2 separate regions of the Homo sapiens genome follow, and region 2 is linked to region 1. Evidence: fine-mapped expression QTL. A gene starts in region 1. The other region holds a variant in brackets. All regions are shown on one strand. Distances are from middle to middle.

Evidence for each region. PIP is the estimated chance that this variant, and not a neighbour inherited with it, causes the effect.
Region 2: its variant is fine-mapped to the expression of QKI in whole blood (INTERVAL, PIP 0.98). The same link has a PIP of 0.9 or more in B cells.

What each region holds. Positions count from the first base shown.
Region 1 is chr6:163,401,890-163,417,904 of GRCh38, forward strand. QKI (QKI, KH domain containing RNA binding) reads left to right here and starts at 12,829. Exons shown (of 8, transcript NM_006775.3): 1 at 12,829-13,446. The coding sequence starts at 13,305. LOC124901234 (basic proline-rich protein-like) reads left to right here and starts at 9,692. Exons shown (of 4, transcript XM_047419614.1): 1 at 9,692-9,820; 2 at 10,725-12,196; 3 at 12,360-12,779; 4 at 13,076-13,287. The coding sequence starts at 11,317. The coding sequence ends at 13,287. CAHM (colon adenocarcinoma hypermethylated) reads right to left here and starts at 12,061. Exons shown (of 1, transcript NR_037593.1): 1 at 11,176-12,061. RefSeq lists enhancers at 3,796-3,865, 3,876-4,055, 4,286-4,475, 12,081-12,733, 12,734-13,387 and silencers at 11,468-12,247, 12,338-13,157, 13,408-13,457, 13,658-13,847.
Region 2 is chr6:163,658,045-163,674,059 of GRCh38, forward strand. It overlaps LOC102724152 (a long non-coding RNA gene), which reads right to left and starts at 13,440. Exons shown (of 2, transcript NR_134620.1): 1 at 13,277-13,440; 2 at 6,322-6,613. RefSeq lists an enhancer at 3,401-3,540. The variant T/C (reference allele first, on the strand shown) is at 9,787.

The sequences.
Region 1 (16,015 bases):
CAGCAGGGATGAGGAGAGATTGGGGAAGCTGTGCCTGGCTCTGCAGTGGGCCCTGGAAGAGGCTGGCAGAGACACTGGGTGCAGTAGGCACCTCCATGCTGGGGGCTGGCCGAGGAGAAAAGAGACAGGTGGGAGGGGGCTGGGTGGATGGCAGCTCCCTGGAGACGCCATAGGACACAGGGGATGGACACAGTTCTTTTTAGACTCCCAGCACTTCACTCTTAGCCCCAAGGAGGATCTGTGTCATATAGAAATTCGTGGTAGCATTAGGGAGAAGCCGCGCACTTACCTCTTTATCACAAGTGCAGTTTAAATTAAATTAGGAAGGAGAGACTACAAGCTTTGCAAAGCTCCCTTGTAAGAATCTGGGGATCAGAGACACTTGACAGCTGAAATCACCTGAGGCTTGTTATTGCCAAGGGTGAGCACGGGTTCCTGAAATAGTTGGTTGAAACTGCTGGGCCCAGGAAGCTTCTGGTTACCGTGCAGGTCAGGCCCAGGTAGAGCAAACGGTGAAGTTCACTTAGTAGGAAGGTTTCTCCCCAGCTCTGGGGCTTCCTGTTGATTCTTAAAGGGGAAAAATATATGGTGAATGACAAAGATTTTTAGTTTTGTGATGTCGACCAGTAATTTAATTCAATTCCAATAAGAAATAAATAACAGATCCAAGGACCCTCTTATTTTGAAATGTTTTCTAATATTTTCCAGTGGTTAGCATTACTCAGAACCAGGGTATTTTCTTTAACAATTCAGATCTTGCAAATGATTTCAAATGGGGCACAGAATCTGAAGCTGCCTGGCACCAACACGAACTCTAGGACATAAAGGAGGGCTGGACCTGCCTGACACTATGGGGTGGAAAAACAAGCTAGACCTTGAGCCGGCAGGGCAAGAACTGGTGCACAGGCCATGAAATACTGTGTGCGTGTGTGCGTGTGTGTGTGTATGCGTGTGTGTGTGTGTATGCGTATGTGTGTGTGTTTAGAAAACTTTTGAAAAGCAAAACTGCTTTTAGGTTCACTTTCCAGCAAAGGAGAATTTTTTTTTGGTGGGGGGGAAGGGAGGACAATTTCCTTTATCGAAATTTTTTCCTTTGCTCTCTTTTTCCTCATGTAATCCCTATTTCCTTTCTTGAATGAATGCTGTAAAGATAAAGTTGAGACTATGGAATACAATGTCAAATGAAGGGTAAATAACAATGAGAAATTGTATGTTAGCAATATTTTTTTTTTTGAGATGAGGCCTCGCTCTGTTGCTCAGGCTAGAGTGCAGTGGCGTGATCTCGGCTCACTGCAGCCACCACCTACTTGGTTCAAACGATTCTCCTGTCTTAGCTTCCTGAGCAGCTGTGATTACAGGCACCCGCCACCCACGCCCAGCTAATTTTTGTATTTGTAGTAGAGATGGGTTTTGCCATGTTGGCCAGGCTGGTCTCGAACTCCTGACCTCAAGTGATCCACCTGCCTTGGCCTCCCAAAGGGCTGGGATTACAGGTGTGAACCATCACGCCCAGCCGGTAAGTTGGCAATTTTTTAAAAAGCTGTATTAAGATGCTAGGAAAGTCTTACATCCAGGAAGTTCGACAGTAGACATCAAGAACAAGGTTATGGGGTGTTCATGTTGCACTCATATGCATATGTTATATTATACATAAGAAATTCTATCACATCACACCAGCAGGTTTCAAGTTTAGCGTAACTCAGGGCCCCTCAGAAACTCTGCATGGAGAGGCTGTGGGGAGGATGGGAAAGGACCCACAGACCACGATGAGGACAGAGAGAATGGGAGAGGGCTGAGGCAGGAGCTGCTGAACTTGAGGCTTGAGGCGGGGGAAGCACGAAGAGGGAAGGCTTTGTGCTGAATTCAGATTTGTGTGGCTTACTAAGTGAACGGCAGCTCAGTGCTGTGATGGTGATCTTGCTTCGGAGAAATCTGGTGTGAAAACAGATCATCTAAGTTTTTGCTGTGGTCTCTGGCATTACCTTTACTTAGTGCATTATCACTGCACACAAGGTACACAATAAGTCACTTTTGTAAAAATAGATTTCAAGAGGAAAATTCTTACCAAGTTCCTTATAATGTCAGGGATTCAATTATAGTTCAGACTGAAGCACGTCCCCAGGTATCTATTGGTAATGTGTCGCCCTCTTGGTGAGCAAGAAAACATATGATGCAAATAGAAATTTTGTTCAAGATTAGTATTACAATGGGGTATGTGATTCGCGGTGAAGCAAGACTCATAATTGAATCCCAGAAAGGTTTATTTGAAAGCTTTTTCCTTTCAACTACCTTGATTTAATTGTGTGTGTCCTGGCCTTCATTTGGAGATGAGGCTCTGAAAGCCACTTTGTTACCTTGAAAACCACTGAGAGAAAGTCCTGACTCCATTGGTAAGTTTTCTGGAGGCTACAGGTGTGGCCCAGGGCTGGGAGGTGGTGACAAGACTAGGAGGTGCAGAAGTCATAATTTTAAGGACCTAATCTCGTTGAAGCGAAATTTCTAGGGGGTTACCAGGAGAGATGAAGCTGATTTCAAGGCACGTGCAGGGAAGGTAGAAGGAGCCACTGCTGTCTAGCTGCTTCCTGCATGATCTAGTAAAACAAACTTGCAGAAGCCACTAGTGAAGTACGTATATTTTTGTCTCTCCACTTTCAGATTTTAGGTGATTCAAAATAAGGGCTATGTTTTCCCATGGTATCTGATTAAAGCTTGTTGCTATTGCTTTCCAAGTATCTAGTGAAGTAAGCCAAAAGCATGGTTTGCTGAGTGGGCAGGTGGGGCAGACCCCCTTCTGGCTCCTTCACTCTCCTACACTGCTGCGGTGGCCACCTCGGGGCAGGGATTGGAGAAAGCCCTTGAGCTGGCATAATGCAGCCCAACAGTTGCTTGGACATCACAGTTTAAACCCTGGGTTAGCCCACAACTCTCTGTGCTAGAATATCATCATGGAATCTAACAGGCGTGGTGAGCTCCTGGACCTTCCGGAAGACGGGATCTCCTAAGCTCCCTCCACTAACTGCCAGGCCCACTGTTTCTAGGGCAGGCGCAGGAGGGAGGCAGCCTCTCCTTTTCCACTTGGTCCTGCAATGACACAGTGGCTTTCAACACTGGGTCTTGGTGGCGACCCCTGGCCAGCTTTAGAGCAAGTGTTGTTGCTGCTGACAATGGGGCCAGCCCAGGACTGAGGCTCCTTTTCATCAGGCTGTTTGTCCCTTTACGTCCTAGTGTCAGCAGTCCTGGGAACAGGAAACGGTTTGTGCAATAGGAAGCAGCAGAAAACTGATGACTGAATACTTTTGAGCTTTGTGGAGAAAATTTCAACGTAGAGAGATTGCACACATCCCAAAATACGTGTGTACGAACTGGAGCCCTATCCAGGCCTCCTTTTCAATTCTTAAAATGATGCTATTTATTGAAAGCTTACCATGTCCCAGGCATGCAGTGAGGCACCCATGCCATCCTAACATCCTTATGCTGCACCACCTTACCTTACAGGCAAGAAAAGAGAGGTGCAGAGAGTTTACGTTGCTTTTAGCAAGTGACAGGGTCGAGATTTGAACCTGGGACCTCTTCAGTGACTTTTCTGGATCCTCCTGCTCTGCAGCTGCCTCGGAGGACCAGCAAATTCTTCAGGAAAAATGTTTCAGGACTTTCCGTCCTTGTTTCAGGACCGTTCCTCTGCATTATCTGTGAGAAGCGTTTCTATAGTCTTGGCACATAGTTATGCTGTGGGGCTAAGGTATTATTATTTCATATTTCAGTGCAGAAGGAAGTACTTATTAAAAGGCCCCAAACCAGTTGTCTGAGCCTAGAGATGAAAGGCCTCCTTCCCGCACCGGCCTGGGTGCTGAGTGGCCCTGACGCCAGGCCAGCCTGCCACTTACAGTCTGAGACTTGTGTCTGCTCCCTCTTCCCAAACACAGAGGCAGGGCCTGGCTGGGGCCATCTGATGAAGTGCCAGTGTGCCTTCATGAAATCAGGCATGGGACTGACTGAAAAGCTGAAATCTGGTGAGCTGAGGGGGAGGAGAAGGTCAAGTCTGGCTGTCGGTCTACAGAGGTCAAGGACCTGGCACAGAGCAGGGCCTGCTGCCTCTGCCACCAACAGCCAGGCACCCAGAGAGGAACTGGAGGAGAAGGCGGCTCGCTGCTGGCAGGTCAGCTGATGGGAGAGTTTACAAGACTGTCTTTGAACTCCTCGCATGCAAGCCCTTCTTCTCCTTCCTGATTCACATTTAAGTTTGCGTTCCTGATCCCCTCACATTCTTTCTGCTCCTTTAACAGCTTCACCTGGACACAGAAAGGACAGAGGCAGGAGCAGGGCCACGTCCCTCTGTCGATCACAGCTTTAGCTTTCAGTTTCTCACGGCTGCTTAATTCCCAGCTCACACTATCAATATAGGGCACGCATTTTAAAACTGTTAAATAAAAACAGCTGCTCATTTCACTATGCCACATTTTCTTTCCAACTCAAAAGGATGCTCACTACCAATGGATACTGAGAAAAATACAGTGTCATTAATGTCAGTTAATCAAGTTGGTGGTCCTTGAAGATCTATAAAATGTAACTGTAACACATTTTACAGATTGGCTTAGACAGAATAACTAGGAAATAATAAATGCTAGCATCATCAGTATTACTTGTACAGCTCAGCAAAGGAACGCAAATGGCTACACAGGACTGGGGAAGAACAGAACAGAGATATTTCTTTGTGTGAAATACAGAGTTTATCATAAGGAGGAGAATGAATCACTTTTCATCTCTGGCAGCAACCTGTTTTTTTAACATATTATTTATGGAAAATAGAAAGCAAAACTGAAGCCTTTGGTATTTCATTGCCACTGGATAAATGTCATTTGTATAAACCTTTCTAAATTTGGATATATACCCAAAGAACCTACATGTATCTTAGACAAAAAACTATCCACTTTCATTACATTTAGTAAAAACTCATAAGCCCAGGATTAATGGACATAAAGATATGAAATAAAATAATTTTCTAAATATGCAAAGAAGCCCATACAAACAGAAGTAATAATCAAAAAGTTGTAACAGTTGGTCCAGCACAGGCATAAATGATCAGTGTCTGCCAGCCCTGATGGGGTCAGGGTGCCAGGCATCTTGCCTTTGGTTGCTGGGTTAGGGGGGTCCCGGGGCTCCGGAAGAGGGCCTGGGTAGTATGGCTCAGAGCAGTGACTGCTCACTGAGTGGTGTGGGAATCTTTCAAAATTTAAAAACTGAAAAGGCTGTACTGGTGTGTACTGCTTGAATCTCAGTGCTACAAATAATTGCTTTTAATCTTTTTTTTTTTTTTTTTGAGACAGGATCTTGCTCTGTTGCCCAGGCTGGAGTGCAGTGGTGTGAGCTCAGCTCACTGCAACCTCCATCTCCTGGGTTCAAGCCATTCTTGTGCCTCAGCTTCCCTAGTAGCTGGGATTATAGGCGTACGCCACCACACCTGGCTAATTTTTGTATTTTTTGGTAGAGATGGGGTTTCGCCATATTGGCCAGGCTGGTCTCAAACTCCTGACCTCAAGTGACCTACCTGACTCAGCCTCCCAAAGTGCTGGGATTACAGGCATGAGCCACTGTGCCCTGCCTGCTTTTAATCTTATATCTGAATAAGTAGTGAACAATTCTGATAAAATATCATTGCTATACAAACTCTTCAATGTTAAAACCAGAGGCGCTCATTTTCTAACCTGTTATAGATTCAGAGGACTATGGATTCCCTGGCCTAGTTGCCACAAATGCTGTTTCCTGCTGAGTAAGACATCGCTTACACTCCAAAATACTTTGCAAGAATCACTGAATTACATTGCAAAATATGAACACACAGCATCAAACACTACCTGTCATTGAAGGCAAAGAAATCTTTTGGATTTTCAGATGCTATGAGCAGCTTACATGGCTGCTTCCTCTCCTTAGAGTCCAAGTATGTCTCTGTGTTTTTTCCTTTTTTTCTTTTGTTCATTCAAAGAAGTAATTATTTAAAGTAGACTACTTGTAAAGCATTTTAAGAGCAGAAAGAGGAATAAGACCTGAATTCTACCTTTAAGGAATTTTTATGCTCTACTTGTAGTAAGTTTCTTCATCAAGAGCTCTAGATGAAATTTTTTAGTGCTCCACTTTCTATTAAGTTGTAGTATGTTTAAAAAAATAAGAAAGATTTGATTTTAATTCTTTGGAAATTACAAAAATGTAACATTTTCAGCCAAATGTGTTGCCTAAGGGAAATAAAAATTCTTAGTGTGTGTGTGTGTATATATATATATATATATATATATACACACACACACACACAAAGAATTTATAGTTCTTTATATATATTATATATAATATACATAATATATAATATATATCCATATTATTTATTTATTACTTATTTCAACAAGTTGTGCAAAATTGGACACCTAAAGGTTTTTATATTAATTTCTTATTGCTATTACATGACCATCCATCTGCATACAGGGTTATCCTGGGTGCAGAAATAAAATTACAACAAGGTCAATTTGCTAATCTTAGTGAGGATATTTTATTTAGAATCACAGAATTTTAAACCTTCGAATGACTTTGGAGATCACTTAGTTCAACTCGGATTCAGGGTTACTTATGCAGTGCTACACAACTTATTAGCATAGAACGAATAAGGCTTTTTATACCTAGCACAGCAATCCTTTCTCTATACACCATCAGCTAGAATACTGGAAAAAAGAGACTCAAACGCCACAGGTATTTTAATTAAAGTACAGCTCCTGAGGTACCCAAGTTTAACTTACAGAAAGGTCAACAGTGTGCCTTCCATCACTCAGGACTCCGAAGGTCTGCCTTGAATCCTGTCCTGAATTCAGTAGCTGCCACATGAGTCACATTATGTAGTTAACCCTCTCAGCCTCTGCTTCTTCAGCGGTAAAATGAGGATAATTATTAACTCAGAGTTGCTGCATACTCAGTAACTGAAGTGCCCGAAGGTTGATCGGGACTCTATAAATGTCAGTCTTTTTTTTGGTCTTTCCTTGGTCTCACTGGGAACTCAGTTAAGAACGCATTAATATACAGAAATTACTGGAAAAGTACATTTAGGCTCTAAGTTAAATTTTAGTAAAGGATAATGGCATTTGATTAAATGTCTGGGACATGAATAGTCATTCCCCTTGTTGGTAAAATGGTCACCCATATTAACTTTTAAAACTAACTCATAGACTATAAATCCAACATATCCATTTAGTATGTTAAAAAAAATCTAATCACAGATGCATCCTAAAGGGTCCCAAATCTGAAGGAAAAAAATAAAATAAAATAACAATCAACCCAATCCAGGAGAGCACCTGTGAAATTGTCTTGCAATCATAAAACCAAGCATCAGTCTGGGAGTAGATCAAAACAAAATGCATTTGTAACTCACTCTCACCTTCCTGTGATTGACAGACAGTTATTTTTTAGGTGGTTTCTGTTTAAATATGGAATGAAGGTTGGATTATATAGCACAAGGACCTGCATCCTGGCTGAGAATGTTTTTACCTCTAAAGTTTCATTTAGGGTCAAATGAGTAGAAACCTTACACTGTCAGTTACCGTTTAACCGTTGTGCAGTAGTTTAAGCTAAATGTTAGTACTACATCTGGAATGATCATGTCAGTGGCTTAAAAAAGCAGCACAGTTACCATTAGAACAGCTGTGAAGAGCAATGCCTTTCATTTTACAAATGTTGTATTTGTACTAGTAGATATAAATAAGGTTCACTGAGAGGAATCCATGTTACTATCTAATTTGTTCATTTCTTTATATTAAAAAAAAATTCCTTTTGAGATCAGCCTGGGCAACAACCTAGGGAGACCACCTCCCCCCTGACCGCCCCCCGCCCCCGCCGCCATCTCCGCCCACTCCCCATCCCAACACACACACAAATCCCAAGGCTCTTCCCCTACAAACACTCTAGTTTGATGTTCAAGGCCAACCAAAATCTGGCATCAAATACTCTCTGTGGAAACTCCTACCCTAACACCTCGTACTTTTCCACTTCCCAAGTTCTGTCATTGCTGTCTCCCAACACTCTTTGCTCCGCCTCGAGATCAAATCCACCTCCCCGGTGTGGTCTTACAATGGCTTCCGGGCAGGCAATGTTGGTGCTCACCGGTATTTTCACAGCATTTTTGTCTTTAGCCTTTACGTGGCAGTTATTAGTTAACTTTTTAAATGTACCTGCACATGCTATTAACTCCCAGCTCAGCCTGTAAATGCCTTAGGGTTAATGATATGCATTTACATATAACAGGTACTGGAAATATTTAAGATATTCACATTTGAAATGTTTCATTTTCAATCTTTTAAATAGTACCTGATAAGCCATCTCACAATTTAAAAGTAAAAAAAATTTTAAAAAGTAAAAAAAAAAAAAAAAAGCGCCATCTCGTAATTTAAAAGGATGCTCAAATCTATTAAGACAATAAACAATTATTTTGCGAAGATACCAAGAATGCCCCAATTCCTTTTAGGAAAATCTAAAGACTAAGATTTTTAAAAAGAACACTGGGACAAAAAGCCATAAAACCCTAAATCTTATATCCAAGGAACATTATAGTTCTTTCGAGAACTCTATGGTGATAAAGAAAGGTTTGGAATACTGCAAATTTCTATTTTAAATGTTAAGAATAGCAATAAGCAAATAGAGCCAATCAAATTTAACAGAATAGAAAATATGTTTCCACGCCTGGTTAATTACTGATGTTAGAATGTGGAACCATTTTTAGTGTCAACATATTAGATGACAATTTTTCACAGTGAAAAAACCTATTATAGGGATCTTCAACTGGAGGCTCATTCTGTATATATACTCACTACATGTTGTAATTTATTTTCAATACTGTATTAAGATAACATTTTTGTAATAATGTAATTATTACAAAGTTAGTCTTTCTACATTTTTTTTTTTGAGACGGGATCTTGCTCTGTTGCCCAGGCTGGAGTGCAATGGTGTGATCACAGCTCACTGCAACCTCTGCCTCCCTGATCCTCCCACCTCAATCTCCCAAGTAGCTGGGTCTACAGGTATGTGACACCAGACTCTGTTAATTTTTGTATTTTCTAGAGAGATAGGGTCTCACTATGTTGCCTAGACTGGTTTCAAAATCCCGGGCTCAAGTGATCCACCTGTCTTGGCCTCCCAAAATGCTGGGATTACTGGCACAAACACCGCACCCGACCCTCTGCAGCTACTTACTCCTCCTAAGCATCAGCCCTCTCATCTCTGAAATATGGCTCTTCCTGCCTACCTCAAATATTGGCTGTAAGGATGAAAATAAACAATGAAGATAAGGGTTTTGCAGAGCTTCTGGTCCATAACAAGTACTTAATACTTCTTTTGGACATATATTTAATAAGTGCCTACGTGTACCATATGCTGATCTAGGTGTTGGAAATTCCTAATAGAAGAAACTCCTTTTTCTCATGGAGCTTACAATGTTGATGCCAGTGGCAAACGAGTTGACCCATTGTTACGTGGAAACAAATGGTATGAAAAGAACCTGGGGTAAGCAGATGGAAGAAGGGAGGAAGTGTTTGCGTGCACAAAGGCGCCATTTTACATAGGGTGTTAAGGGACACCTTCTAAAGATAAATAGGGGCAGGGGTCGCCGATGTATGGGGAAAAGCTTTCCGAGGAGAGCAAACACCAAGGGCAGAGTCCTGGGGAGGGTAAGCATGCTTGGAATATTTAAGGATCCAGACGGATTCCACGGGGGTGCAGCCAAGTGGGCTGTGGGAGGAGAAGGACATAAGGTCAGTGATGCACCAGGGGCACACCTGTCGTCTTGCAGGACTTGGTAAGCTCTTCGGATTTTTTCTTTCTTTCCTTTTTTTTTTTTTTTTTTTTGAGATAAGAAACCATTGAGGGACTGTCAGGAAATGAGGTGATCTACATAGATTTGAAAAGGTAACCTGCCAGGCACGTGGCTCACGCCTGTAATCCCAGCACTTTGGGAGGTTGAGGGGGGCGGATCACCTGAGGTCGGGAGTTCGAGACCAGCCTGACCAACATGGAGAAACCCCCGTCTCTACTAAAAATACAAAATTAGCTAGGCGTGGTGGCGCATGCCTGTAATCCCAGCTGCTCGGGAGGCTGGGGCAGGAGAATCACTTGAACCGGGGAGGCAGAGGTTGCAGTGAGCCGAGATCGCGCCATTGCACTCCAGCCTGGGTGACAAGAGCGAAATTCTGTTTCAAAAAAAAGAAAATTAACACACAGTAGCTATTATCAAATGCTGTAACCGTAAGTGATTTAATACATAGGAAATGAAAATTGCCTATCATTGTTCTTTAATCTGGTTTAAGTGGTTGAGCCTTATGACACTGCCATTTCTATGGGTCAAAAATGGTGGAATATTGTCATAAAATTCAACCTGATTTAAAGGATAGGGCAAGGAAAAAAAGCAAAAAAAAAAAAAAAAGCTTTAGAATAAAATATAATTGGATTATAATCCCAGACACAGGACTCACTAGCTATATTCTTGGGCAAGTTACTTAACTTCATCTTTCTTGGGTTTCCCCTTATTTGTAAAATGGGGATAACAGTCTAACCTAAGCCCAAGTTGTACTGATGATTAAACGAGATATGCATGTAGGGCATTCAGCATAGTGCCTAGGAGCTTAATAAATAAGCAGGCCATTAAGAAGGGGATTGCATCTTTTACACTAGCAGCATCAAAACCTTGATTTTGATTTTTCTAGGTACTGAAACAGCCTTCATTACTTAGAGACCATAGCTTTTTTGCAAGTTACTATTCCCTGCATTTAGAAAGTTCATCTTTAAACAGGCAATTCAGTAAGTAAATATTCTATGGCTCTAAAACAGATACGGCTGTTGGAGACTTTAAAACATCTGACAGTTACATTTTTAATGTTGTCTACCAAGGCTATTACATTTCCTCTGTCAAAGTAACTTAATTTTAAAAACGAACTCTGTGCTTGTTAAACGAAAAGGCCAGAAGGCTACTGGCTACTCAGCGTTCATTTGAAATTCTTATAGTGCCTTCAGTACAATTCAAACTTAGAGGTGATTCTCACAATTCATGTGAAGCAACATTTTACAAAAAAAATCACCTACGTTCACTGTTAAGTCAGAAGACAGAATGATTAACAAAATCTCAGCCGCGAATTACTCTCACGATGGCCAACTGGATATTAAATAACTCTGCATTATTTTAATGGAATGTTATAAAGGATTTGCAACAAAATGCAGACGTAGATTTAGGGACTGCCGACTTCTATAGATCAAGGACTTCATTGGTGCAGCTGAGGAAATTCTTCCAAACAAGTCTAAATGTTGGAAATCCACCAAACTGCAGAGAAAGACCTCTTGCCTCCGTATTCTTTCTTCATCTGTAAAAATGTTGACTTCTGCTTTTCAGACTACGCGCACAGCCTCTTTATTTCCTACTGCGGCTTCATTCCCTCACGGAACACTGACGCCATCGCGAAGGAAGCATTTCGAGCACGACTGACGCTCCCCTTATTATTTGCTAAGCCGCTGCGCTCGGGTCTGGCTACGATTTGCTTTCAGAATAACGGGAAGGTGCAACAAGATCGCTTCCCTAGAGGCGCGTCGCCCGCGTGGCCCGGACCCCCCACGCCCGCCCGCCGCCCCGTGGGTGCGCACGCGTGTCCGCGCAGGCTTCCCGCCTGGCGAGTGCAAGGCTCCTCTCCGCCGTGCTGCTTTCCAGCCTCTCAGCAAATCACGAACACCGAAAGAAGCCACGGCGGCGACGGGAGGGGCGTCGCGCGTGCTTCCCTCGGCGACAAAGCGGGAGCCGGGCGCGCCGGCCGAGGGCGCCCGGCGCAGAGTCCCGCAGAGGCGGACGCCGCGGCACGCGCCTCGAAAAGCCTCAAACTCTTATCCTCGGCTCTCCCGCCCCACCTCCGCCCCGCAGCCAAGACCCGCGCCGTGGCGGGCCCGACGGCCAAGGAAAGCCCACCAGCCCTCCGCACCGTGGGCGACGGGCCAAGACCCGGCCCTAAACGGCCAGACCCAGCCCCTAGTCGGCTGCCGCCCCCGCCCCACGCAGGCGCGCTCCGGGGCCCTCCCCTCCCCCACCGCGCGCTCGCGGGGCCCGACGGGGGCGGAGCGACCCTCGGAAGGGGCGTGGCGACCGGGCTCGACGCGCGCACGCGCTCTGGAGCCCCACGGCTACGTGTCGGGCCACGTGATGCCCACCCCGAAAGTCCCCCGTGAAGCAACAGGACGTTAAAAAAAAATTTCTCTTCTGCGGGGTGGATAAGAGGTTCTGAAAAAACTATAGTAACGGGAGGCGAGGCGGAGGCAGCGCTGGCGCGTCCCGCTGGAATTCCTCTCGCCTGCCGCGCCAGCCCCGACCGCGCCCGCAGCCCCACCCGCCCCGTGCCGTGGAAAGCCCCGCGCCCCCCCCGCGGCCGTCGGCCCCGCAGCCCACACCCACCCGCCCCGGGCGCCCCGCACGGCGGCGACCCAGTCCTTGCGCCCAGGCCCGCCGAGCGCCGCAGTCCGTCACACTCCCGTTGCCCCCGTCGCCCGCCCCGCCGGGGAGGCAGGGAGGAGGGGGCGCGGCGCCGGCGGCTGCCCCGGTCGCGGGGCGGCGGGCAGCAGGCAGCGGGAGCGCGCCGGCCGGGACCCGCTAACGGCCGCCCTGCGCGGCCCCGCCCGCCGCCCGCCCCCGGCCCTCCCCGCGCCGCTGCCCCTCCCCCCGCCGCCGCCGCTGCTGCCGCCGCCGCTGGCAGCGCCGCCTGAACTGAGGCGAACTCCGCCGCCAAGTGAGTGAGGAGGAGGAGGAGGAGAAGGAGGAGGAGGAAGAGGAGGAGCGCAGTCGGAGCGCGGCGGCAGCGGCAGAGGCGCCGCGGCGGGGACCAGCCCAGAGAGACCCCCCGAGCCCGCGGCACAGGCGGCGGCGGCGCTGAGCGGGCTCGACCAGCCGAGCGAGCGGCGGCCCCGGCTCCTCCTCGTCCGGCGCCAGCAGCCCGCGCCCCGCGCCCGCACTCGGCCAGCCGAGACCCGCCTCCCGCCCGCCCGCCGGCCTCGTGAGGGACGCGCCGAGCCGGGCGGCCGAGAGCGGCGGCGGCTGGGAGCGCGTCGGGCCCGGGCGGAAAGTGCCTGCGGGGGGCGGGCGAGCGCGCGGTGCCGGCCGCCCCGGGGCTCGGCGCGGGAGCCAGAGCGGGAGCCGGCGCGGAGCGGGACGCCGGGTCCCGAGCGGCCCGCGGCCGGGGCTCGCCCCCGCCCCTCCCTCCTCTCCGGCGGCGGCGGCGGCGGCGGCGGGCGGAGTGAGCTGCGGAGCCTGGAATATGGTCGGGGAAATGGAAACGAAGGAGAAGCCGAAGCCCACCCCAGATTACCTGATGCAGCTGATGAACGACAAGAAGCTCATGAGCAGCCTGCCCAACTTCTGCGGGATCTTCAACCACCTCGAGCGGCTGCTGGACGAAGGTGAGCGTCTCCAGGGCCCCGGCCCCGGCCCGACCCCCGCCGGGGCGGCCCCTTTCCCCGCTTGGGATGGTGGGGAGGGCGGGAAGGTCACGGCCGGGCGGGACCGAGCGCCGGGGGGACTGGGAGGCCAGGAGGGCGCACAAAGGAGGTGCCGGGCCGGGCTTGCGGCGGGCGGGCGGGCCGGGGTGGACCCGCCGGTGCCGGACGCCCCCTGCCCGGCCGGGACCCCGCGCCGCTGGCGTCCAAGTTGGCGCGTTGCGGAGGGCTGCGGGGTGAGCCCTGCGGCCCCTCTAGCTTCGGCGGTCACATTTCCGAGAGGTCGGCGGGGGCTGCGCGGACTCGGTGGTCCTCGCCGAGCCCTCCCGAGAGCAGGCCCACGCCGCGCCGCCGGCCTGGAGGACGCGTGTGCCCGGCGCGGGCCCCGCTCCTCCGCTCGGCCTCCCGAGCCTGCTCTGCGCGGACCCCCACCGCCCCGCGTTCGGGAGCTCTCCCCTCCCGTGAGGACTAAAGCGGGGTTTCGTGGTTGGGGAGTTGGTGCAGCTGTTCAATACTAAGTGGAAGTCAGTGTGGGGCTCGTTAGTTTAAAGAAATTCCGTAGGAGACCGAAATTATGCTGGCGTAGCCGACAAGGAGGACTAAGTGACGGCGAAAAGCACTTTTTTCCCTTTTGTTTGGGGAAGCGAGAACTGTTAGGGAGTTGAACTTCACTTTTCGGGGGTGGGGGGGGGGGGGGTGGAGTGCGAAATAACGCGATGACAGATCGGAGCGCAGCCTGAGTTAGAAGAACTTGGGCGGAGGGTTTGCTCCCGGGGACGCAGCCGCCTGAGTTTGTAGGACAGGGTTTCGAGACGTTTGGAAAGGGCGAAATAAAATTGAGCCAAAGTTTCCAAAAAGCTGTATGGAGCGCTGTGGGGAGTGAAGAATGACAAGAAGATTAATGTTGACCAACTTTGGAATTTCCTTAAGAAGTTCTCATAGCAGTACCTGAAGTATTAATTTCTAGTAGCTGTGGGTTTCTGTGGACGCCTAGAGAAAAAAAAGACCACAAAAAAAGTCTGTTTCGAAAATCGACTGGCCAGGAGTTTGTTTGTTTTTTTTTCCTGCTTAGAGGCACCACCGGAGGACTGTGTAAAGGAAACTGAAAACTACAGGTTGAAGAGATGAACAATGGAGTTTAGATTTTTCGCAAGAATTTCGAGATTTTAAAAATAGAGTCGGGGAACAGGAGTTTGAAGCTTGGGGAGTTGGAATGTCACTAGAGAACAAAAGGCCGGAAATGTTTCCATGATAAAAAATGGTTAAAGAAAAATCCCAGGAGTTCTGTTGTCTTGAAAGTCATAGAAACAACTTAAAAGTAGAAAATGGTTAGGTGTTACGGCTTTCTCGTCGTTTTGCTTCCGTATGTTAAACATACAGCACTCACCAACGTTGAAATGGGCATTTTCCGCTGTTGGAACAGCAAATCTGTTAATTTCAAGTTGCTCCAGAGAAAACCTGAGCTGTCCCTTTAAGGGGTTCTGCTTTTCCTATTTGTGTTGGCATTTGAAAGATTGTGGAGGCAGAAAACTTTCTGGAATGTCAAAAAAAAAAAAAAAATGCTGGAACTCTTAAATTGAGTATTTCCAAATGTGAGCGCTAAGGGGCGCCAGTTATTTTTTAACCATGGAAATGGTTGGAACAAAATGTGTAACATACTCAATCTGACTGACCTATATTAAATTTAGTTGAAACTTAAGTTATAGATTATTTGATTTGTCATAATGTGTTTATATAGTGTTTTCGAACATTGAAAATACTTTCCTTAAAATTATTGGCACAACTTTATGACGTTTCAAAATAACACTCTTACTGTCTTCTCCTTGGCATATTTTGGTTAAGTTAAAGTTTTAGTAGTATTAGTAACAATTTCTGGTGAAAGTTTGTTTTCTTGAGTGCAGTTGTTTAGAAGGAATCCTTTATCGACGATAAAATGAAAATAGGCCTTGGCAATATTTAGGGTTAATTAAAATTAAATTGCATTCCTGAAATGTCGAATTCAAAGACTATAGGAGATTCCAAAAAAAAGTTTGAAAATACTTTCACCTTATGTATACTATTTAAAAAGCTGCATACTTTTGCGTTCTTTAGTTTTAAAAGGCTTCTTGTGCTTTTATGTTGATCTAAAATCTCTAAATTTAGAGCTGATTCCTTGTTATCAAGTTTCCAACCTTAGGCTTTAATAATTTTTAATCTTTCAAATCCAGAAATTTCAATTATGTCATTGTCTCTGACAAAGGCTTATTTCTCTCTGGTTGGAAATAGTACTCGTTTGCGTTTTAAATGTAAGAGACCACTATGATATCTCCTAGATAATGTTTGTTTCCCCTTCCCCTTTTAATGTGGTTTACTCCATCTCTTGTCTTGCTATCTTTAGTTTTAGCCTTGTCAATTCCCCAGTGTAAAGATTGCTTCTGTGTGGCATATAGTATGTTTAAAATGGGCAATATAATGACGAGGAAGTTTGATTGTTTTTTATCAGACCAGTACAAACATGCAGGAAAAAGGGCTATTCCTTAGTGTGGAATAAGCG
Region 2 (16,015 bases), 260 kb after region 1:
TAAATATTTGAGTATGTTTCTGTGTCCATTTCATTTTCTTTAAACTGTGCTGATGACCTTTGAGGCTAGAGAAGTGAGCTATAGACATGAAGACTTTGTAAGCCAGTGGTATATCTGGAACCAAATGCGAGTGTAGACATGACTCTGAGATACCTGACCACCTCCAGGTTATTGCTTAATGGCATCTTGTTTATGCCACTTGGCTCCTTTGGATGGGTCCTAGTCCTACCACTTAGATGCCAATTTCACGGATCAGCACCTCCACCACCACCAATCCCTCACTTCAACTCCAAAGCCTCTTTGAGCGTGGTGGAGTTTTGGAAGCTGTGGAAAGTCTGATGAGAATGAATGGGGGTTCACACTGCTGCGTGGTCCATCTCTGATTGCTCTTCAAACTGCCTTCTCCCTGCTGCTGACAGTGCTTTTCTTTTTAATTTCCTTTCTTTTCCTCTTCTTTTTTCTCCTCATCTTTTCTTTTCCTTTCTTTTTTCCTTTTCTCTTTCCTTCCTCCCTCCCCTTCCCTTTTTATTCTTTCCTATTTTTTAAACATCAGATCATAGGGCTGCATAGCTTAATAAGTCAAATAGCTACTACTTCTTCCCCATTTTCCTTTCCCCAGAAACAACGAATTTCAACCCTTTTAGCTGATCCTTTTGGTATTTACCTTTCTCTGAGGAAAGAAACTTATATCAATATTTCTCATTTTATCTTAATATTAGGCATTATTCGTTGACTTCATACAGTGCAGGATGAGGGCTTACTTATTTTTTTAACACCCTCCTGTCCTACTACACGTAAGCACACCTTTAGGCTCTTTTTTAAAACATTTGCTCAGCTTTCTAGGTACTTATCACCAATTATGCTACAACTCCCCCCCGGCCATAGAAATCTTCTCTCATTATCCTTAAACACGTTTGCAACTCCGTGGATAAGTGCTTGAAGGGATGGATACCTCATTCTTCATGATGTGCTTATTTCACATTGTATGCCTGTAACCAAACATCTCATGCACCCCATAAACAAACACATCTACTATGTACCTACAAAAATTGAAGCAATCCTCAGACACATGAGAAAGTTTATCAGCTTCATCTTGAGCCCATCTGTGGAGCACTCTGACCTGCTGCTAACTGCACTGATGCCCACCCGTCCAGCCACAAAGCTACCATTTTTGAACCATTTGTTGCCTTTTGGGAACTACCCTTGGCTCGTTCTTGTTTCAGCTCTCTGGTTTCCCAGACCCTAGTTTATGTCTTCCCTCTCCCCTTTTTTTGTACTTTAATCCTTATTTTATGGAACACATCCTCCTATAACTTTATGAAAAGATGTAGTAGGAGGTACATCTTTGGAGAACTTACTTGTCTGAAAATATCTTTATTCTATCCTCATACTTGATTAATGCTTTGGCTGTTACTGTATTCTAGGTTGGAAATAATTTCCCATTAACACTGTGAGGGATTTGCTCCAGTTTACAATATTGCTGGTGAGAAGTTGGATGGCATTTTGATCTTTTGATGCTTTGTACCATATCTATTTTTTTGTTTATTTTCTTCCTGAATCTATTTTCACCATAGTGCTGGACATTCAATGGTTCTTTCCAATTTGTAAACATGTGTTCTTCATTTTTTGAAAAACCTCTATTGAATTTTTTTTGGATGATTTCTTCTCCATTTTCTCTGCTCTGTCTTCTGGAACTATTATTATTTGGACATTGGATCTTGTAACCTGTCCTCTACTTTATTTATTTTAATCTTCCTATCTCTTTCTCTCTTCCTTCCTTCCTTCCCTCCTCTACCTTTTAGGAGATTTACTCAGTGTTTAGATTTCAATGTTCTATTAGATAGGATAGGTTTGGCTGCTAAAGTTGAGACATAGTGGCACGCACAAGTTCCTTCTCTCTACATAACAGGCCAGGCATGAGTGGTCAGGGCTGATGTCATGGCTTTGAGGTATCAGGGACCCAAGTGCCTCTACCCTGTAGCTCTCCCGTCCCTAAGGTGCTGGTCTCTTTGGTGAAGTTCAGGGTGTTCCACTACCATGTCCATATTCTTGCTCTTGGTTAATGGGAGGACACAACTTAGATGCTGCACACATTATTTTTGTTTACATGCTCTTGGTCAGAGCTTAGTCACCTCACCGCTTCTAACTACGGGGGAGCTGGGATGTGTGGTCTTTATTCTTGAATCTCATGTTCCCATCTAAAAATCGTGGGTTCTATTACTGTAGAAGAAGGGGGAGAATAGATATCAAGTGATCACTGAGTGTCTCTGTCACAATTCTCACTTTTGGTAACCCAAATATCCATGTACTTTCTTCCCCCACTCTCAAACACATTCACACCTTCCTAAGAAAGAGAACTTGAAAATCAAATTCACGGACTGCATCCCACTTAATAAGGTTCCTGCCTGCCGGCCCACCTTCACTCAATGCCCTGTGGAACCAGGATACATGAGCAGATAACCTCAGCAAAACTCCCACTGAAAAGGAGAATGGAGAAACCCACAGGAATTACTGTCCATTGTGATGCTCAAATCCTACTGGAGAATACGTGTTGGTGAGCCCTCCTGGCTACACCTGCTCTATGGAGGTGCAGTGGGCTGGGCTCTTTGCAATGAGACTCTGCACTCTAAGAGATGCTTCCTTGCCCATGATCCTCTATGGCCATATGGAGCATGTGCCCTGGAGACCATGCCCTTCTTTGGGACTAATGGCTTTTGTAGTCCATTTCCTGCAGGTTTGGAGAATCAAGAGTTTCTAACTGGTTAGAGAGTCACAGGCTTTTACAGATCAATTTGTATTTCTTTGGCAATGCAATCTACTCCAAAACATACACATCTTTCAGTCTATTTTCTCTAGCCAGTTCCATGTGTAGGAAACAGCCAGGAGTCTTATCTGGACAGTTTTTGAGCTTGATCTCTCGTGTATTTTTTGCCCCAGGCTTCTGTGTTCTTCCCATCTTCTCTTTCTCTCAATATAATAGTGGCCCCTTGAGGGTGTCTGAAAAAATGGGCTTGGGTGGAAGGCAACACTTGTATTCTGATTTTTGCCTGCTGGGCTGGCTTCCCTGATCTACCCAAGAACTCTTCAGGAGAGGTAACTGAGACAGGATTGGGGTCAGGCTTTTCTTTGCTGAGGCTCTCCCTCTTTAGAGCCACCCTGCTATCACTGCTTCATCTTGGGTCACAGAACCATTTGGCATTTTTCAACCCTGCAAAGCTGCCAATGCCCAGACTCTTAGCCAGCAGAGACTGCAGGCTGCAGAGGAGAAAGCTCACTTACCAGGGTTGCATTTCCTTCCATCTCTGTTTCATTTCCTCTCTCTCGCAGGCTTTTCTGAAAGGAGCAATGAGCAGACAACACATCTCAGCAGGACACAGTGTGGTGAGGCCAGGTTCATTGCCCCAGTGATGGGAAGGGCTTGGAAGGCAGGGCAGTGGGCCCCTGAAGGGGAGGCTGCATCATCCCACTGGCAGCTCCTGAACTTCTGTGTAGGAGGGGTTATGGGTAGGAAGACACTAGGGCACTTGTCTTGTGACTGTGTCTCAGAGTGGCATGGTGTGCAGTAGTCACTGCAGGGAGTTCTGGAGGAGTTGCTGTGGATTATGGGGGTTCAGCTCCCCCTGGGCCAGCCTGTGCTTTCTCTCTGGGCTAGAGCAAGGGGGGCACCTAAGATGATTAAGAGGAAGCTGGATCTTAGGCAGGTGATTAGGGCCAACCTCATGGTTTTGCCTGGGATCTGCTTTGTTTCCAAATGGACACAGGCAGAGAGAAGCTGTTGCAGAACTGTTTTTGTCCTTGAGGGTGAGTGAAGCTTAGCAGAAAAATTAGTCCCCTTCCCTATCTATGAATTGCTCCCCCATTGTTAATGCCTGTTTTAACTGGAGCAGGTCAGTGCGGGTCAGGAGGATTCATGATTTTATGGTGAATGAACTAGAACAGATATGGGATTACTGGCAGGAATTCAAAGCTCAGACACTTTCCTCAGACCTCTGACTTGCATAATGAAAATTCAGCTGCTCAATTCAATTGGGAGCCAGGTAAACAAGAGAAGGAAGGGTGAATAGGAAAAGGTAAATTAAATCATGAAGCAAATGTCAAGTAGAGGTAAAAGTAGAAGTTAGGCCTGACAGGGGGATGATTTTTGATTCACAATCAGTATTTCCTCCTACATTTCTGATGGGATCAATTTGGTAAGTGGAGGCTGCTGCCTGATGGAATTTGTAGAATCAGTTGGAGAAGGAAACTCCTGTAACCTCTCCCGCTGAGGAAGGACGCGCATCTGGTCTTTGTGGACTTCCCGGCTGTCCTTCCGCCTCCTGTTCCTGATGTGTTTGAAATCCCCAGCATTAACTGGGATTCCCTTCCATCACCGTGCAGCCTTGTTCAGTTCTGCTAGGGGATCAGTTCTTAGCACAAAATAACCCAGCCGTCCTCCACTGCAGCCTCTGGGGACCGGGGACACGGCAGTTTTATTTGTTGACTTCCAACTTCAGTCCTGAGCGGTGGGCTTTAGAACGAGCCTGGCTGTCTTTTATTCTTGTGTAGACTGGTTTTCCTCTAAGACCAGTGTCTCCCAGCCCTAGCAACTCCCTCCTCTGCTCCCGTGGAAAGCCTATGGCCCTGGGAGGGAACGCGTGTGACAAGGACAGAAACCCAGCGTCCAGCCGCAGTGTGTGCGGTCCCCTGACACAGAGATGTAGATTCAGTGACAGAGCCCAGGCCACTGAGCCATTTCCCTCTTTACTCCTGGGCTCGGGAGTAACATATTCAAGGGACCTCTAAACAGAAATATTGGTTAGTCTGTGGATTTGAAGCAAAACAGAGAAAGGGCTTGCCCAGATTCCTCCCCGTGCTTCACGGCAGGACCCAGAGTCCTCAGGCCCTTCTGGACCCCCGCCGGCTTCATTCCTAGACACTGAGCCATGGTCCCTGCCCTCTGGTTGCAGGGGTGACATGGGCATATAGAATGACAAACTCCAAAGCTGACTCAAGGCCACGTGGGGCTGAGTGTCCAATGGAAAAGGAACAGGAGGGTGGCCCGGGAGGTGGTGCAGAGCCCAGCGCTAGGGCCAGTGCACTGGGGTTTCAGCACCCGAATGGCTGCTTATCAGTGGTGACCTTGGGTATGTCCATTGTCGTCTTAGTGCCTCAGTTTCCCCAACTGAGAATGGTAGCTAATAATAGTACCTACAACGAGGATTCGATTAGTCCTTCCCAGAAAGCCCTAAGCAGAGTGCCTAGCTCACAGAAGCTGTTCCGATAAAGGCTAAACTGAAGAGCCTCCTTCCTTGACCTATATGGCTTCTATAAGTTCATGGGAATGAGCCCTCTCCTCTGGTTGGGCCGAGCAGAGGAGGCTCCATGGAGGAAGAAGGATCTAAACTGGGCCTTGGGAGATGGTTAGGGTTTTGTTAGGTGAGGAAGACAAGGGAGGGGGCTCTGGGAGGGAGAACTGCGAGAACAAGGCCTGGAGGCAGGGGAGGTGGAGGGGCCGCTTGCTTGGAGTTGGGGACTCAGTGCTGTTGGGTCGCCCACTCCTGATGGTCACCTTTCTGGGTGAGGAGCTGGTCTGGATGAATCCTGAGAATGAATCACGAAAGGATGCCATAGCTTCTTATGGAAACTCCACTGGCATGTGGGCATGGGAGCCAAGTTCATGTGCCGGAGAGAAGCCGCCAGGGCTGGCTGCGGCAGAGAGTTTATTTTGGACAAAAGTGAGGGACATCAAAAGCAAGCTCGAAGCAAGCAATGGCTGAAGGCAGGGAAGGAAGGTATTATCAAATGTCATCATGGGGACACCGTGACTGCCAAATGCCAGTCAGATCTGAGTCAACATTGGGATATTTTGGGGTCATTATAAAGACTCTGAAGGCTCAATGGTTTTTCTCGCCAGGACACAGTCCTTGCATCCTGCCTGAAGGCTTTCAGGTCATGCCCTTTGCTGAGCCCTCCTATGTGCCCACCTTAATGTCGCTGTGTCTGGAGACCCCCCATTGCTGGTTTGAGACAGCTCCCTCTTCCTTCTACCTGAGCAGTCCTCCTTCTGCAACCAAGATGAACACTCTCACCCACAGTTACAGCCTTCCCACAATGAGCGTATCCCCCATTGCTCCTGGGCTCCTCCACCAGCCTTAGGCCTCATCCCCTCTTGGGATCACTGATGGCTCCTTTTCAATGATAGGAAGAAAGCTGAATCCCTGTGAATATGGTCTATATGGCATTTAGCAGCTTCCTGGGAAAGAGGGGGTACAAGTGGTCAGGACTATTCCTGGATTGCAGCCTTGAAACTAAGGGACATAATTGCAGAATCTAATTTTTGGCTGAGATTTCTCTAAGTGCCATATTTAATGTGACACCACTCTGTGGGGGTTGCTCTCACCCTTGGTTGGTCAGAGGTATCTGGAATACCCAGAAGGTTCTCTTGAACTCCAGAGAGAAGCGAGGGCCTTCTTGGGGCAGATTGGACTTCTGGATTTGGGCCTGATGGAGACAGCACTTCCAGGGTCAGCAGATACAGGCATTCTGGAGTGGGCTGAGAAGCATCTTGCCCGCTTGCAAAGTGGCACCCATTTCCACGGGCTGACAGAGTCCTATGCGGCAGAGGGACGGTGTCCTAGCAAATGAACGAATTTTGGGTGAAACACAGTTCTTCACAAACTTTAAATGCAAGAAGTTAAAGACTGACCAGTTCAGATAGAATTGGCTTAAAGAAGCAGACTGGATACCCGGCTCAGAACCTGCAAGCATGAGGATGCAGCAGGGCTGGACCAGGTGAGCGTCTCTGCCCCCAACCCTTATGAGTCAATCTTTCAGGGCACAGCAAAGCCTTCATCAGTCTTGGTTTCTCTTGGGATTAAAAGTAAATTATGTAATGGATTTTGAGTATATGGTCTCTAGTGCCCTAATTTCTCTTGAAGGAGAGAAATTATCCAATAGGAAGGGAAATTGACAAAAAGCCTGCATTGACTCCATCAGTTAATCAACAGGGATATATCGGCAAGGTGATTAACTCTACTAGAAGACCACAGCTCTGGCCAATTCTATTTTAAATCCAAGTAAGGGTGGTAGAAAATGTATATTTTCAAGTCTGGCCTAACAGTTATATACATACACAGATTTCATAGATTGATGCAAAGAAAAGGTATCTGGGGAGAGGCAGTTTGTGTCATTTATTCATTTCTTGAAAAATTGAGTGTTTGCTGTGTCCAAGCCACCATTTTTAGCATTTTGGGACACACACTTTACACCCAGAGACACACACAGACACACACCCAGAGACACTCATACACACAGACATAGGCTAATACATACAGAGTCACACTCACACAGACACACCCAGAAACACTCATACACACACACACAGTCACACACACAGAGTGACACTCACACTGATACACACACAGACACAGTCACATACAGACATACACCCAGAAACACTCATACACACACACACACACACAGAGTCACACACACAGAGTCACACTCACACAGATACACAGACACACAGACACAGTCACATATAGACATACACCCAGAAACACTCATACATACACACACACACACACACACACACAGAGTCATATACAGTCACACTCAGACACACAGACAGGCACAGTTAAATACAGACACACACCCAGAGACACATACACACTCATAGACATACACTAATACACAGTCACTCACACACACACACACACCCAGAAACACTCATATACACACACACACACTGTTATACACAGAGTCACATACAGACACACAGACATACAGAGACATACATATACACACGTACACACTTATTCTCTGCCCTTCAGGAATTTTACATCTCTGTAAAAATTTTGACCTCTCAAGCAAATGCACAACAGCAATTTAAAACAATTTGGTTGTAGGGCAGAAAAGTGTGCTCCCTGTCTTTTGGGAGACTGGCCTGGGGAAGAAGATAATTGGGGCTAAGACCATCTATTAGCTTCTACTCCAGTGCATGTGTGGTGCTCATCAAGTGAAAAACCACCCCCTCCAGGCCCCGCCCCATGGTCCTACTGGATTATATAATGGACCTCAATAATTCCAAATGAGCTATTATACTCTGCCATATAATTATATATTTAGGACACATGTAGGGTTAAAAAAAGAAATCCACAGGAAAACACTGAAACAAATTGCAGAGCAATTTCAGTGACTGATTATATTTAAGCTGCAGTGTGTCAGCTGTTCTCATATTTTTTTTTCAGAGTTCCCAAATCCGTTAGACAATATTCTGAAGCTATCAAACACTGGTCTTTATTTTTGAATCAAAGTCATTTTAGAAACCACGTCCCTGATCTTTTCGAGACTCATAAAATATAAAAATGGCATCTCATTTTTTTTTTGGACAAGCTTTTTATCTTCTTTGTCCTCTTCAGATAATAAAAATACTAACAATAACAAATAAAAGCAGTTGTCATTTACCGAGCTCACGTTCTCTGCCAAGTACTGTGGTATGTATTTTATATCAACTCATTTTAGTTTTCACAGCAAACTTAGGAAGGAGCCATGAGTTGTATGAAGTTCCTGTGGTTGAGGAAGTTTAAATATCATGTTTAAAGACACACAACTCATAAATGATGAAGTTATTACTAGAACTGGGCTAATCTATTCTTATAAGTTTTAGCAAAATGACAGCTATAAATTTCCATTTCCCAGAGTATTTTCATATGTGTTGTCTCATTGATTTTTCACAGTCCTGAACATAGATCAAGGCTCAGTAGAGTGTGGTTGCGATTTTACAGAGGGAAACCCAAGGCTCAGAGAGGTCATGATTTACCCAAACACAGCTCACTTCCAATAGGGCTGCTGAGGCCGTGGCCACGCTCTGCACCAAACAAAGCCAGTGTGCAAATTGGGCCATTGGACCCAGCTCCAGTGCTCATTCACAATCCCACACTGAAAAAAGCAAGAGAACAGAACGAACGCACATGCAAAACCACCTATATGGCATCAAGGAGGTCTTTTTCCTCAAGTATGAGCTAGGCTTTTCCAGCCTGGCTGGAAAGCCTAGCAGAGAATGGGATTCTCTGCTAAGGTCAACAAGATGCGGCGCAGCCACTACCTACGAAGCTGCTTAGCACGCCCCACTGTGTGCCTGCCCAGGGGAGGACACGCAGCCCTAGGGGTCTGCTTATGATTTCTGCCCCTGCTTGTCTCTGCTGCTTGCAGCCAGCGCTGGCTGGACATGGAGAGCCAGCACCGAGTTCCATTGCTTCCATTTGGCACCAAGTGCCTGATGGAGCTGTCCACTCTCAACAAGAAAGGGGCCTGAGGTGTTGGGGCAGAATGAGGGTCCTCGCTTGAGCTCACCTTGACTCTTCTCACAGGCCAGGCCATGAAGGGAAGGGAAACGGAGCAAAGCCAAGAGACAGGGAAAAGTGTGGGGGATAACCTGGGGGCTGGAGGGCTGGTTGGGGGGTGCAAGGGGCGGTCGCGGTGAAATCTGGCCTTACGGGCACGGTGCTAGTGGGGAGAACGTTAAAGGAAGTCACTTTAATCTTCAGAATGAGCTCAGAGGTCCACAGGGTGGATATGGAACCCCTATTCATTCATTTAATATATGATTAGATGTCAGTGTTGTTGGAGTTACATTTTAGGAAATGACTATTCATAATGGAAGTCCTGGCACGGTTTCTTTCTAATCAGCAAAACGGGGTGGTGGGCTCAGCTGTGGCACCCTCGCAAGAGGCTCTTAATTTACGAGTGATGTTAAATTATGCTGGCTGCCAGATAGTCAGATACGGGAAGTGATACAATAAGTCA[T/C]TGGGGATGTGCTAGTTCTTCTTTTTTCATTTGACAACCACAGGAAGTGGCCATTAGCCAAGCCATCTGAGAGAAAGCATCTGATTGCTCTGCTACGTGCACAGTATCTTGAGTAACTGCAAAAGCCTGAGAGGAAGGACTGCAGGGGGTGGGGATGAGAAGCAGGGTGAGGGGGAGGATAGAGATCTGGGGGTCAGGGCCCTCAGAAGCTAGCATCAGGACAGCTCATGTGGCTTGTTTTTCGCAGGCTCCCCAGGGACTATTCCAGGTTGGGCTAAGCCTAGTCAGGTTTGTCAAAGCCCTACAAAAATAGTTCATGTTATTTCTGTGGCAAATCATGCACAAAGAACTTATGAATAACTAATTTCTTACTTGGCTCTTTTCTAGAAAGGGTAATTCAATACAATGCGCTTTCCAGTCTGTCACAACTGCACGAGGGCAGAGGCAGATTGCAGGTGGGGCAGGACTTCGTAGCCAGGACAAACTTGACTGCAGAGGGTAGCCTGTTCCTCAACCTTCTGAAGCCCTGACTGAGACTTGAAACTGTAGAGAAATTAGCAGGATTCTGGGGAGAACAGAGTCTGGAGAGAACAGAATGGAGTGTGCATGTTTGAAGATGTATAGTTTCTAACAGCAATTTCAGTGCTTGTAGGCAATTTATAAATATTCGAGAAAGATGCTACCATACTTGGCTGAAAGGCTGACGGAGATGGTATTAGGTAACGGAAGTTACAGACAGTGGATGTATGAAGCTGATATTATAGGAGTCCCCTTTCCATCTGGGCAGTATGAACAGGTTGCAACTTACCCTCCTAGTTAGATCCTAGCCGTCTTAGCTTCCTTTTCTGGCATGGCCAGCCATTGCTTTCTGACCTCTTTGAAATAAATACTTTTATGCCCATAAAAAGAGTGTTTTTTTTTTGAATTAAGAAAAAAAGACTTTGATTGGATGGTTTCTAAGCTTTCTTGCACATCGGAGTCACTGGGTGATCTTGATAACATTCCAGTGCCTTTCTTTTCTTTTTTTTTTTTTTTTTTTTTTTTTGAGACAGAGTCTCGCTCTGTCGCCCAGGCTGGAGTGCAGTGGTGTGATCTTGGCTCACTGCAAGCCCCGCCTCCCGGGTTCACGCCATTCTCCTGCCTCAGCCTCTCCGAGTAGCTGGGACTACAGGCACCCACCACCATGCCTGGCTAATTTTTAGTATTTTTAGTAGAGATGGGGTTTCACTGTGGTCTCGATCTCCTGACCTCGTGATCCGCCCGCCTCGGCCTCCCAAAGTGCTGAGGTTACAAGCATGAGCCACCGTGCCCCGCTTTTCAGGGCTTTTCAAAGATCATTTTCTCCAACTCAATGTCCCTGCATTTTCCAGAGTTTGTTTGTTAGCATTGGGTAGCAGTCAGACTGGTTATTTTGCTGTAACAAACGACCGTGATATCTCATGTTGGAGGGGCAAGGAAGCACAAGCCCATCTTATTCCCAGAAGGAAAGCCAGAAATATTTGTAGGAAAGTGATAGCTATGCCACAGGGATTATTGATTTTGCATTCTAGATTCTTTTAGTTTGAGTAATTCCTTCCAGAATTTTTTGTCTTATAATTTTGAGAATTAAGATATTAATTTTGCTGCCTCAAAATGGAAATGCTTTCTGGAACCAGGAAGGCAATACCTCTGGTTTTCTTGGACACTTTTGTGACCATTTTCTTAGTTTTGATTACTTCAGCAGTTAGGATTTTTTTAAACAAACAAACAAATCAAAACAATAAATCCTACTGGTAGATCTGACATAGCTAGTGATTTTTGCACAAGGGCAAAGGAAATCAAAGAGCATAGAGCCTCTGTATGGTTTTGGGAGAAGGTAATCTTTCCTCTTGGACTTGCACCCTCCATCTTATTGGCCAGGGTTATGGGCCATGGCCACCTGGGTTGCAAAGAAGCCTCCCTTGCAGAGGAAGGGAAGGAGAAGGGAGAAATGTAAATGGCTTTGGTGGAACCAATGCACAGTGTGAACCCTCAGGAGTAGGCAAAACATGTGCTGTAAACTCCAAGTCTAGGCTTTGGGCTATTGTCCCTGATAGTTCAATAAAACTCTCTAGTTAATCCCTAATAAATTTGTGACTGGAATGGCCTGCAGGTTTTAAGCCATGAAAACAGTTAAATGACCTCACATTGCAGTGTGAGCATCCATTCGGTAACCTGGGTCACTCCTTACCGTTTACCCACACCTAGATTTTGGGTCATGGTGAGCTAAGCAGAGTTGGATAGAAATTGAATATCAAAATGGAAAATGTCTATACCAAAGTGATCCATCTGATGAAATTACAGTTCAGAGACATTTTATAATAGAGCTACAGAATATTGAGGCTGGATGGAAAATGTGCAATGGAGCAGTTACAGTTCGGCATCCTCTGCTGAAGTGAAGCAGAGAATTAAGACAATTACCTAGTACTTCAGGCAAGAAGAGGTAGTGCTTGTCTTTCTGAAAATAACCTTCCTGAGTCCTATAGCTTTCCCCAGGCCACCAAAGATAACATGAGGCTATCCCCATATTTCCCCTGGACTATTGAGTTCATTCTGGAGGAAAATGGCTCTCAGGAGTTAATGGCATTAAGATGTGGTCTGGGCTTTTGGCTGGTAGATCTTCAGTGAAAGCAGATGGCCACAATGGTATTAAAACTAAAGACTGCAGTAAAGCTTTTAATTGAAAACAATTGGACCCTGCTGGATGGTAATTACCTTGGCTGCTTGCAAATAATATCCTGCCCCTGATGCCATGAAAGAAAAGCTGAGACGGAGTAAACAGGATCTGCTTGATGTGCATCTAATAAGCATGGAAGTCCCCAAACTACTTTCTCTAGGGGTCCTCCAGTAAAAAGAGTTAGAAATGAAGAGGAGAGCTTGCTGTAGCACAAATTGTAAAGACAAAGCGTTCATTTAAAAAACAACCGAATGGGTCCATATTTACTTGGAGAAAATTGGAGTTCCATACCTTCAGGAAAAAAAAAAAAGATACTTTAAATGCTTCTTTCTTTTCTCAGTTAATGATAAACGCTAATGAGGAAGATGTCTCATTTGGATGAGTTCCTTGTAGATCTTTGTGCTGCGATGCCTGAGAAGTCACAGGCATTGGGCAGTCGAGGCTGAACTGTAAGGTTCATTTTCCTCTTCACTTAAAGTTTTAACCTCTCGAAGCTACGATGGTTCAAATAATATTTAAACGTGGACAGTAGCTATGCAGGAGGCAGTGACGTAATAAAGTTCCCAGGGACTCAGGCTGGAGGTTAGATGCGTGGGCAAAGTTTGACCACAGGCTCCTTTCTAAAGAGTCTTAGAAGGGAAGACTAGGGGCGGGGTGGGGTGGGAAAGGTCTTAGGAAGCCAGGGGCTGAGTGGCTCCCAGAAACCACGCCTGAGATCTGAGTGGGTTCACTGCACGGGGCTGTAGCACCGCTGCTCCTGCGTGGCCTCCAGGTGGTCCAGGGGACCCCACTCACCTGCCAGGTGGGAAAGCCTGGCCTTTTCCTGGATCCTGGCTAGCACTGGGATTTACACGCCTGCTCATCACGCACTGTCAGGAGGCTGCTTCCCTGAACAGCCTTATCTCAGCAGTAAGGGGCACCCACCTGCCCACCCACCCAGGCTTGCCACGGTAAGTCGCCTCCACCTCCCAGCGGCTCCGCTGAGGCTTAGGGCGGGCACCCGGGAGGATGCTGGCCCTGCCCCCATTGACGTCATGCCACCATGTGACTCACTCTGACCAATGAGAGGCAAGCGGAAGTGACGGTTATTCCTCCTGCGCGGGAGCTTTGGGGACGCACTTCTGGATGCCTAGGCCTCTTCCGTTTGCCTCTGGGACTGGCGATACTCGAGGTAATGGCTACTGGGGCCAAGTCGTGGGCGACCTGCAGTGCATGGGTAGAGTAAGGTGCCTCCGCCCAGTCTAAGCAGCCCTCCCCAGAGCTGGTGGGTTCCCAGGAGTGATGCCTGTTTGTCAGTGAGGCCCCGCGGGGATGAGGACGGAGCATTACGCAGCGCACTGCGCCCCCTTGAACTCTGCAGATGCCAGGGTGAGATGGGAGCACCGCGCCAGTCCCAAGGCAGTGCTGGGTGGGCAGTGTGGGGCCTGGGACGTCTACCTTCAGGCCCTCTGACTCTCGCTGGATTCGCTGTTCCGGGCAGTGCTGCAGCGCAAAGGCGCCAGGCCTGGCGTGGAACCCGAGCCTGCGCAGGGCCGCGTCTGCGTTCACAGGGAACGGTGACCCCATTGTGGCAAAACATCTAACTTAGCTACACATACACGGTAATCGTTTATGGAGCAATAATAAAGCACAGAACACAAAATCCACGCGAAAAAGAAAATGTGCATACACGATTTCTTTATAAAAAAGAAACACTGGCCGGGCGCGGTGGCTCACGCCTGTAATCCCAGCACTTTGGGAGCCCGAGGCGAGCGGATCACGAGGTCAGGAGATTGAGACCATCCTGGCTAACACGGTGAAACCCCTTCTCTGCTAAAAATACAAAAAAATTAGTCGGGTGTGGTAGCAGGTGCCTGTAATCCCAGCTACTCGGGAGGCTGACGCAGGAGAATCACTTGAATCCGGGAGGCGGAGGTTGCAGTGAGCCGAGATAGCGCCATTGCACACCAGCCTGGAAGACAGTGTGAGACTGTCTCAAAAACAAACAAACAAACAAACAAACAAACACCAATAAAAGAAAAACTCCCTTAATTATACTTTGGGAGCTGGGCTTGGCTATTTCCTTCCTAGAATATTCTCCTATGTTCTCGGCAGTCTAAGTTGTGTGCTGTTATGTTTGGTGGACATCACTTTGTACTCACTACATTTAATAGGGGCACAATTCGTTGGATTTCCCGAGGTCTGATTAGTGATGGTTTCTGAAGCAGCTAGTTGATGTTCAGTTCTGGAAAGTTCTCCCTTATAGAGCAGCGGGAATACTTTCTCAGATACCCTGTTGCCTTTAATGGCTCCACACATGATACCATTCTCTGTTAAGCAGCAGGTGAGCAGGAGGGGCGCTGTACAAGTCATCAAGGTCTCTCCTCCAAAAGGCAAGATTCTCTTGTAACCATCTAATATATGGTCTTGACAGTTCAAAGATAAGAGTTCCCTGGGGCCTGAGACAAGCCTCTTCCTTTGGGGAGGAGCCAAGTTTTAGGAAATCTGCCTTCACATTAAAACACAGTTTCTCCTAGCAGCTCTGACTCGTTGGTCTGTGGGTCCTTGTAGAATGTCTCATCCCTCTTTATGTGGTACCTGTTTGAATGTTTGAAGGCAGTGACCCTCGTCCTCTGAGTTATTTTCTTCACGCCTTTTTTGAGCATGGGGTTGTGGTCTTTCTGCAGCCTTAGTAGTATTCCACTGGGGACCAAAGGGAGCCCATGCTTTGAATACAATTTTTGAATCATTCTATTCGTCCTGTTTAGCCCTGAACATTTCAATTTTGGTGGCAGTGCCAGAATATGCGAATAAAGGACTATAATACACTCCTTGATACTGGATTTTGTTTGAGAAGGATGTAATGGAAAAGCAAGTTAGCTTGAAACATCCCATAATTTTTCATGGGTAGTTACAATAACTGCTTGCTGTTGGTATTGTGCTATATAATTGCACAGTGTAATTGCTTCTTGTAGTCCTATAGTATCTGTTCTATAGCATTCTATTTTATAGGTATTTTTAAGGTGCATTTTTTATCGATTTGGCATATACACAGCAATAAACTGCTGTGGAATTGATTAGATAGTAGAGTGAAGCTGAAACATTTAGTGCATTGATTCTTAATCTGTAAAGATGTTTATTTGCAGTTCGGCATATATTTATTACTATAGTGTAAGTAATGTTAACATTAAAAAGAGTATTTGGGGTGTGTATGCTTCTAATAATAAATTAGAAGTTCCATTGTGTGTTAGTCCATTCTCGTATTGCTATAAAGAATACTTGAGACTGGTTAATTTATAAAGGAAAGAGGTTTAATTGACTCACAGTCCTGCAGGCTGTACAGGAAGCACGATGCTGGCACCTGCTCTGCTTCTGGGGAGGCCTCAGGAAACTTTTATCATGGCGGAAGGCGAAGGGGGAGCAGGTGTATCACATGGCCAGAGCAGGAGGAAGAGCGAGGGTTGGGGAGGTGCCATACACTTTTAAACCACCAAATCTCATGAAAATTCACTCCCTATTGCAAGGACAACACCTAGAGGATGGTGCTAAACCATT